Regions from separate parts of the Homo sapiens genome. Here region 2 is linked to region 1. Evidence: fine-mapped expression QTL. Tissue or cell type: CD4 T cells. Region 1 holds a variant in brackets; the other region holds the start of a gene. All regions are shown on one strand. Distances are from middle to middle.

Region 1 (4,242 bases):
AAATCTTATCCCTCCAAAGTTTTCCCCAATGAATTAGAAGTAACAAATTTGTAAATTTGGTGACAACACTTCTGCATTTACTAGGATAGTGGTGATTTCAAATATCCTGCCTTTGTTTTTACTATACACCTCCATTTACTTGTCAGGGCACATGTCCTGATTATTGGTTAGACCATATATATCCCCACCAAGTCTCAAAATGCCATGCCATCATTTTCCCTTGTCCATACTCCTCCTACAACTACCTCACTACATGTAAAGAACTTAATTGACATTTGTCCTACTTTATGTATGTCATTTGGATCTGGGACAGAAAAATATATGATACATAAGACATCTGGGGAGAAGGGGCCATACTAGGATGGGGTGAGAAGGAATGGGGAGGAGAGACTGAAAGCTTAGCAGTAACCCACTTTTGTCTTGGGAGAGGGGAGTGACAGCTGGCAGATAAATTGAGTATACATTGCAAACAAATAGGATAGCTAGGACTGCGACACAAAATGAAATAAAAAATTGCTAAATGGTATCTCTTCAATATATGTTTGCTGAATGGATGAATGAAGAAATAACTGAATACATGATCTTCTCCTGGAACAGATTGTTCGACTAAATATATTTTACAAACTTGATACTTTTTCCAGTTATTATAAAAGTGTAGACATCATGTTTTAGAAGGTTGAGTGACTATCCAGAATGTCTTCCAAGTCTGATTTTGATTTTCATGTTAAAAAAAAAAGCTTAGGAGTTTTAAAGTATATTTACCATCTTTAAGAGGATTCAGGTAGCACAGCCACCTGAAGTTTTTATACTGCTCAAACTTGTTTTCCTTTTTTTTTTCTTTATAGGTAGGGGTTTTAAATTCTGAGAGTAAGAACAAAAATTTTAAAATTAAAAAAAAAATAGGGGTGAATGACCGGGAGCAGTGGCTGACGCCTGTAATCCCATGACTTTGGGAGGCCAAGGCGGGCAGATCAACTGAGGTCAGGAGTTCGAGACCAGCCTGGCCAACATGGCGAATCCCCATCTCTACTAAAAATACAAAAATTAGCTGAGTGTGGTGGCAGGTGCCTGTAATCCCAGACACTTAGGAGGCTGAGGCAGGAGAATTGCTTGAACCCGGGAGGCAGAGGTGGTAGTAAGCCGAGATCACGCCATTGTACTCCAGCCTGGGCAATGAAGCAAGACTCCATCTCAAAGAAAAAAGAAATAGGGGTGAAGGAGAGTCAAGTGACAACGAACCACATGGGATTCCCACAAGAATGAGGAATTCATCCTAAAAGGGATAAGAAGAGGCTGAACAAACAAAAACAACATACCATATGTATATCTACTTCATGGAGCTTGAATAAGAGAAACTAGTCTCCTTCAGGCCTAAATGCCCAGAGATTCACATATTTTAGAAAAACTGGCCAGATGCGGTGGCTCACACCTGTAATCCCAGCACTTTGGGAGGCCAAGGTGGGCAGATCACCTGAGGTCAGGAGCTCGAGACCAGCCTGGCCAACATGGTGAAACCCCGTCTCTACTAAAAATATAAAAATTAGCCGGGCATGCTGGTGAGCACCTATAATCCCAGCTAATTGGGAGGCTGAGGCAGGAGCATCACTTGAACCCAGGAGGCAGAGGCTGCAGTGGGGCCGGGATCATGCCACTATACTCAACCTGGGCAACAAGAGCAAAACTCTGTCTCAAAAAAAAAAAAAAAAAAA[G/AG]TCATATTTATTTGCTCACTCATTAATCCGTGCATTTATTCAACAAACATTTGTTGAACACTTACTACATGCCAAGCAAGGAATGTCTAAGGTACATGATCCCTGCTTGGAGAAGCTCAACGGTCCAGCTATGGGCAGGCAAACATGTATATAATAAATTATGCCTCAAAATGTCAAGTACTAAACAGGCATGAACAAAGCGGTGTAGGCATGTTAAGGATGGAGCAAGTTTCTGTGTGCAGGAGGAGGGAGCAGACAAGATGATCTCTAAGCTGGGCTTCTGAGAATATCAGCCTTCAGGGACTGGCAAAAGGACTCAAAACCTTGTGGAGGGCTGTAAATGGCAACCCACAGCCCCCAGGGAGAATTAGAGGGAAACCCCAGACAGAATCTCTAATTCCTTATGGTGTGCTTTTTATTTCAAACCACACCAAGCAGGAGGTGGTTTAAACTAGGAATTTGTAAAGTGGTAAGAGAAGTGTATTTTAGTCAATAATCTTAACTTAGGTCTGGCTTACACTAGTCAAGAAAAATGGAAAATTGAGAAAATTACCATATAATTTTTAAAAAGCATATAATTTACTTAAGCTGTCATAACAGTTATGCCTTGCCTAAAGGCCGGACGTGGTGGCTCTCACCTGTAATCCCAGCACTTTGGGAGGCCGAGGAGGGTGGATCACGAGGTCAGGAGATTGAGACCATCTTGGCCAACACGGTGAAACCCCATTTTTACTAAAATTACAAAAAACTAGCTGGGCGTGGTGGCGGGTGCCTGTAGTCCCAGCTACTCGGGAGGCTGAGGCAGGAGAATGGCGTGAACCTGGGAGGCAGAGCTTGCAGTGAGCCGAGATCGTGCCACTGCACTCCAGCCTGGGCAACAGAGTGAGACTCCGTCTCAAAAAAAAAAAAAAAAAAAACAACAGTTGTACCTTGCCTAAAGCAAAACAAAAACAGAAAAACCAATGAAGCAAGAAATGCTAGAGTACCTCCTATGTGCAAGACACTCCACTGGATGACTGAATTTTGTTTTGTTTTGTTTCAAATTTGAAAAGAAATGAGATCTTACCATGTTGCCCAGGGTGGTCTCTAACTCCTGGGCTCAGGCAATCCTCCACCTTGGCCTCCCAAAGTGCTGGGATAACAGACATGAGCCACCATGCCTGGCCTAGGAGTTTTTTGTTTTGTTTGTTTGTTTGTTTTTAAGTATAAGATATAGTTCCTTCCTTCAGTGAAGGCACTGTATTGTTTGTGTGTGTGTGTGTGTGTGTGTGTGGAAATAAAATGTTTACATGTGATTAAATAGGGTAAGCAATGATGCCATAAATTATGAAGGCCCAAAGAACTGACATTGATGACAAGTGTCAAATCACTGAAACTGCTAAATTTTTTTTTTTTTTTTAAGACAGAGTTTGGCTCTGTTGCCCAGGCTGGAGTGCAATGGTGCGATCTCCGCTCACTACAAGCTCCGCCTCCCGGGTTCACGCCATTCTCCTGCCTCAGCCTCCCGAGTAGCTGCGACTACAGGCGCCCGCCACCACACCTGGCTAATTTTTTGTGCTTTTTAGTAGAGACGGTGTTTCACCGTGTTAGCCAGGATGGTCTTGATCTCCTGACCTTGTGATCCGCCTGCCTCGGCCTCCCAAAGTGCTGGGATTACAGGCGTGAGCCACCGCGCCCGGCTGAAACTGCTAAAATTTAAAGAAGGAATCACTTCAGTTCAGGACAACATGATAGAACATCCTGCAAGAGGACCATTTGAACTGGACATGGAAGTAGGGGAAGATGCATTCAGTTAATGATTTGAATTACACAAATTAGCTTTATAAGTTTTTCAGGAATAAAACTATCACATAAAATGAGATGACTATCTTTTGTATGAAATATTGTATTTGTGTATGTTGAGAATTTATATTGGTAACTGGGCAAGAATTATCCAGGATTTGGTTGCCCACATACTTGGAATTTAATGCTACAAAATACATTCTGTTAAAGTCTCTGAAAAGAGATGACACTGAAAAGTAAATAGGGACCTCTCCAATTTACATACAGAGTACAGGAGCAACTGAAACTTTTATATACTATTGATGGGAGTGTAAAATAGTACAACCACTTCAGAAATTGTTTGACAGTTCTCCAGCCTGACCAACGTGGTGAAACCCCATCTCTACTAAAATTTAACAACAACAACAACAACAAATTAGCCAGGCATGGTGGCGGGTGCCTGTAATCTCAGCTACTGGGGTGGCTGAGGTAGGAGAATCTCTTTTTTTTTTTTTTTTTTTTTTTTTTTTTGAGACGGAGTCTTGCTCTGTCGCCTAGGCTGGAGTGCAGTGGCGCAATCTCTGCTCACTGCAAGCTCTGCTTCCGGGGTTGACGCCGTTCTCCTGCCTCAGCCTCCCAAGTAGCTGGGACGACAGGTGCCTGCCACCACACCCGGCTAATTTTTTTGTATTTTTAGTAGAGATGGGGTTTCACCGTGTTAGCCAGGATGGTCTCAATCTCCTGACCTCGTGATCCACCCACCTCGGCCTCC
Region 2 (4,242 bases), 170 kb after region 1:
ACTCCGTCTCTAAATAAATAAATAAATAAATAAATAAAGTCTGAGAATTAAAATTAGAAAAATTAGCACCATGGTCCTCCGTGTAGATGGAAGACAGCAGCAGGGTTGTTGATAGAGATTACCAATGTCAGATAGGGCATTGCAACTCCTTCGACGGTGTTATTCATTGGTTCATTTGTTCATATACTCATGTAAGTGAGCGTAAACTTGGAACAATGCTAGGAACTGTGGAGCAATGCAAAGATGAGTCAGAGATGGTCCTTGCCCTAACAGGAAAAAACTGTAGCATTTACAAAAGGAAGCATCATTCATGTATGCCTAGTACTAACTGCAGTTTCTGGTAGCTGCTTGATACATGCAGAGTGTTTGTTCAAATCATTTGTACTATAAGGGTGGAAGAGATAAAGCTTATGTTTGAATGCAGAGATGAAAGGGGCCAGGAGTGGTGGCTCAAGCCTGTAATCCCAGCTCTTTGGGAGGCGCAAGGCAGATCCCTTGAGCCGAGGAGGTGCGGACCAGCCTGGGCAACATGGGGGAACCCTGTCTCTACAAAAAATCCTCAAAAATTAGCTGGGTGTGATGGCATGCCTGTAGTCCCAGCTACTTGGGAGGTTGAGGTAGGAGGATCACTAGAGCCTCGGAGGTCGAGGCTTCAGTAAGCCATGATCCTGCCACTGCACTCTAGCGTGGGCAAGCATATTTTAAACTCATGTTCAAATAATGATGATTGAGATATTAGTATTTCCGTTTTACAGGGTAGGCCCAGTTGTTGTGAAATGAGATGGGGCATGCATGAATGGAAAGGATATTGTAGGAAGACAGAAATGGAGAATGAAAGAAATTGATCAAAACTGTCTTTATTCTTTAAGAGTAAGAGCTGGGCGTGGTGGCTCACACCTGTAATCCCAGCACTTTGGGAGGCTGAGGTGGGCGGATCACGAGGTCAGGAATTCGAGACCAGTCTGGCCAACATAGTGAAACCCCTTCTCTACTCAAAATACAAAAAATTGGCCAAGCGTGGTGGTGGGCGCCTGTAATCCCAGCTACGCAGGAGGCTGAGGCAAGGAGAATCGCGTGAACCCGGGAGGCGGAGGTTGCAGTGAGCCGAGATTGCGCCACTGGACTCCAGCCCTGGCAACAGTGCGAGACTACGTCTCAAAAAAAAAAAAAAAATGTAAGAATAGGCCGGACACAGTGGCTCACGCCTGTAATCCCAGCACTTTGGGAGGCAGAGGCGGGCAGATCACGAGGTCAGGAGTTCGAGAGCAGCCTGGCCAACAGGGAGAAACCCCGTCTCTACTAAAAATACAAAAATTAGCTGGTGTGGTGGTGTGCACCTGTAATCCCAGCTACTGGGGAGGCTGAGGCAGGAGAATCACTTGAACCTGGGAGGTTGAAGTTGCAGTGAGTGGAGATCGTGCCATTGCACTCCAGCCTGGGCGATAGGGCGAGACTCCATCTTAAAAAAAAAAAAGTAAGAGGCCGGGCGCAGTGGCTCATGTCTCTAATCCCAGCACTTTCGGAGGCTGAGGCGGGCAGATCATCTCAGGTCAGGAGTTCCAGACCAGCCTGACTAACATGGTGAAACCCCGTTTGTCCTAAAAATACAAAAAATTAGCCGGGTGTGGTGGTGCACACCTGTAATCCCAGCTACTCAGGAGGCTGAGGCAAGAGAATCCGCTTGAACCCGGTAGGCGGAGGTTGCAGTGAGCCGAGATCGCGCCGTTGCACTCTAGCTTGGGCAAGAAGAGCGAAACTCCGTTTCCAAAAAAAAAAAAAAAAAAAAAAAGTAAGAATATACCCAGGCAGGATATTTATAGAGGAAATGCAGCAATCTAATATTTATCATTAATTAGAAAACTTTAATTTGTAATCTACCAAAACAGTGAAAACAACCAACCCTTCCCCCGCCCCCCAATACAAACCCTCCGTTGCCTACTCCAGGGACAAGAGGCGTCACCATCGCTGAGGAGCTGGTTAGGAATGTCGGCTCTCCGACCCTAGCCCAGACTTACTGAATCAGAATGTGCATTTACCACGACGACCAGGTCATTACACGCATTTTACAGTTTCAGAACCCCTGCTATAGCCTACTGTACTTCAGCGCCAATATTTTGCTGAAAAGAATTCCCAGCTGGAACTGTGGCTCCCGGAGTCTTTCACCAGATGGCAGCAGCCCACTCCTCCCTGTAGCACTCCCATTGTTCCAGGCAGGATTCAGCCGCAGGCTCCTCCGGAAGACCAGGGGCAGACGGGGCGGTGGCGGGGTCGTGCCCAGTGGGAGGGGTCGGGTCTGCCCAATGGGTTCTCCCGGGCGGGGGGCGGGGCTCTATTTCAGCAGCTCTCAGGGCCTTGGGCTCATCCCGAGTCCCGGGCTCAGTATGTGGCGCCTTCCTCGCGCGCTGTGTGTGCACGCTGCAAAGACCAGCAAGCTCTCTGGACCTTGGAGCAGGCCTGCCGCCTTCATGTCCACTCTCCTCATCAATCAGCCCCAGTATGCGTGGCTGAAAGAGCTGGGGCTCCGCGAGGAAAACGAGGGCGTGTATAATGGAAGCTGGGGAGGCCGGGGAGAGGTACGCGGGCGCTCAAGAAATCTCTGCAGCCGCCGGGGCTCGCTCGAGGAGGCCGGGCGGGCACTGACCTACCGACTCCCCGCTGGCGCTGGATGCGGTAGTAGCATGGGAGATTTTGAAGCTCCACAGTAAAAGTTTTCTCGTGTAGGGTGCCTTTAAAACAAAAACTTAGATTTTAGGTCCTTGTGTGCTATGCAGAATCGACGTCATTTTGGAGCTGTAGGGGCTAAACTTCCCGCGCATATTTAAAACATTATGGTCTACCGGGCGCGGTGGCTCACCCCTGTAATCCCAGCACTTTGGGAGGCCTAGGCGGGCGGATCACCTGAGGTAGCGAGTTCAAGACCAGCCTGACCGACATGGAGAAACCTTGTCTCTACTAAAAAAAATACAAAATAGCCGGGCGTGGTGGCGCATGCCTGTAATCCCAGCTACTAGGGAGGCTGAGGCAGGAGAATCGCTTGAACCCGGGAGGTGGAGGTCGTAGTGAGCCGAGATCGTGCCATTGCACTCCAGCCTGAGCAACAAGAGCGAAATTCCGTCTCAAAAAAAAAAAAAAAAAAAAAAATTAAAACCTTATGGTCTTGGGATCTATGGTCTTGTGAGAAATGTGGCACACTGAGCGGTGCAACTGATCTTAATTTAGAGCTTAACTCTGGCTCTTCAGCTGTGACGTGCACCGCAGGTAACGTTCTTCAGTGTAGTTTTAAGTTATCTTCCTTCCTGAATTCTTTGGGAGTTTGCAAGCTTGGACGTGCCGAAATCTTGCCATGTTGTACGTTGGGCTGTGAACTCCTTTGAGGACTGGATTTTCAGCATTTCTCCATTGCCCAGGGCTTAACACCGCGCCTGATACCCATTACTGCTCAAAACAATGTTTTATAGAATACAATGGAAAGGTAAGGTTATTATCGCCCAGATTTTTTTTTAAAAGAAAGTTTTTTATAGGAGGATGTTATGTAACAGTTAACAAACTTTGTTGGACGTTGTATATTATATAATGAACCTGCCTTGGTAGAGGGAACACGTCTTTTGGTAATCAGTGGCTGTAGGAGATACAGATAATTTTAATTGCTCCTCAGACCTCGGTGTTTCATCCTGATTTCCGTGTGGTATCTGATCATTAGGCTCTTGGAGGCCTTTTTAGCTGTGCCTTGATTTTCCCTTTCATTGTTGACCTGAGACCTCTCCAGTTGGTGTGGACACGGGACTTTCCAACAGTTTTCCTGCCTTGGCCATTTCATCTCTGAGCAGAGGGTGGGCAGAGTAAGGAAGAGAAGAAATAACTAAAACTAGTCAGTTTGGTCTGTTATTAATGGAAAAAGAGACAAAATAACTGCTTATGTTAAGGCTTTTGTTTATATGCCTAATATTGAGATGTCAGAGGCGAGTTTTGCAGAAAGGTAGTTTCTAATGTTTAAGTCAGAAATGAAAGACAACCTCTGTAGAGTGGTTTATATGTAACAGAAGTTAACCTAAGCTTTTTGAGTTTGGGTATTATATCATTTTTTCCTCTCTTGTTTTTCTTCCCCGTTTGGTCTATTCCCTTACTTCAAAAGGGATTACGTTTTCTATACATGATCATCATCCTTTTGTTTTAAGGTTATTACGACCTATTGCCCTGCTAACAACGAGCCAATAGCAAGAGTCCGACAGGTAAGAGTGTGTG

Direction of the effects. Positions count from the first base shown, and alleles are read on the strand shown. Sizes are in standard deviations (SD) of each study's normalised expression.
For the expression in CD4 T cells of the gene that starts at base 2,361 in region 2, allele G in region 1 goes with a higher level than allele AG (large effect, 1.2 SD a copy in CEDAR).

What was found. PIP is the estimated chance that this variant, and not a neighbour inherited with it, causes the effect.
Region 2: ALDH7A1 starts here. The variant in region 1 is the best candidate, but not a certain one, in a credible set for the expression of ALDH7A1 in CD4 T cells (CEDAR, PIP 0.54).

The regions. Positions count from the first base shown.
Region 1 is chr5:126,767,696-126,771,937 of GRCh38, reverse strand. All of the region lies in intron 1 of LMNB1-DT (LMNB1 divergent transcript), which reads left to right. Among named protein-coding and RNA genes, the nearest start is that of LMNB1-DT, 6.7 kb to the left of the region's middle. The variant G/AG (reference allele first, on the strand shown) is at 1,710.
Region 2 is chr5:126,593,338-126,597,579 of GRCh38, reverse strand. ALDH7A1 (aldehyde dehydrogenase 7 family member A1) reads left to right here and starts at 2,361. Exons shown (of 18, transcript NM_001182.5): 1 at 2,361-2,573; 2 at 4,176-4,229. The coding sequence starts at 2,382. RefSeq lists a silencer at 1-57.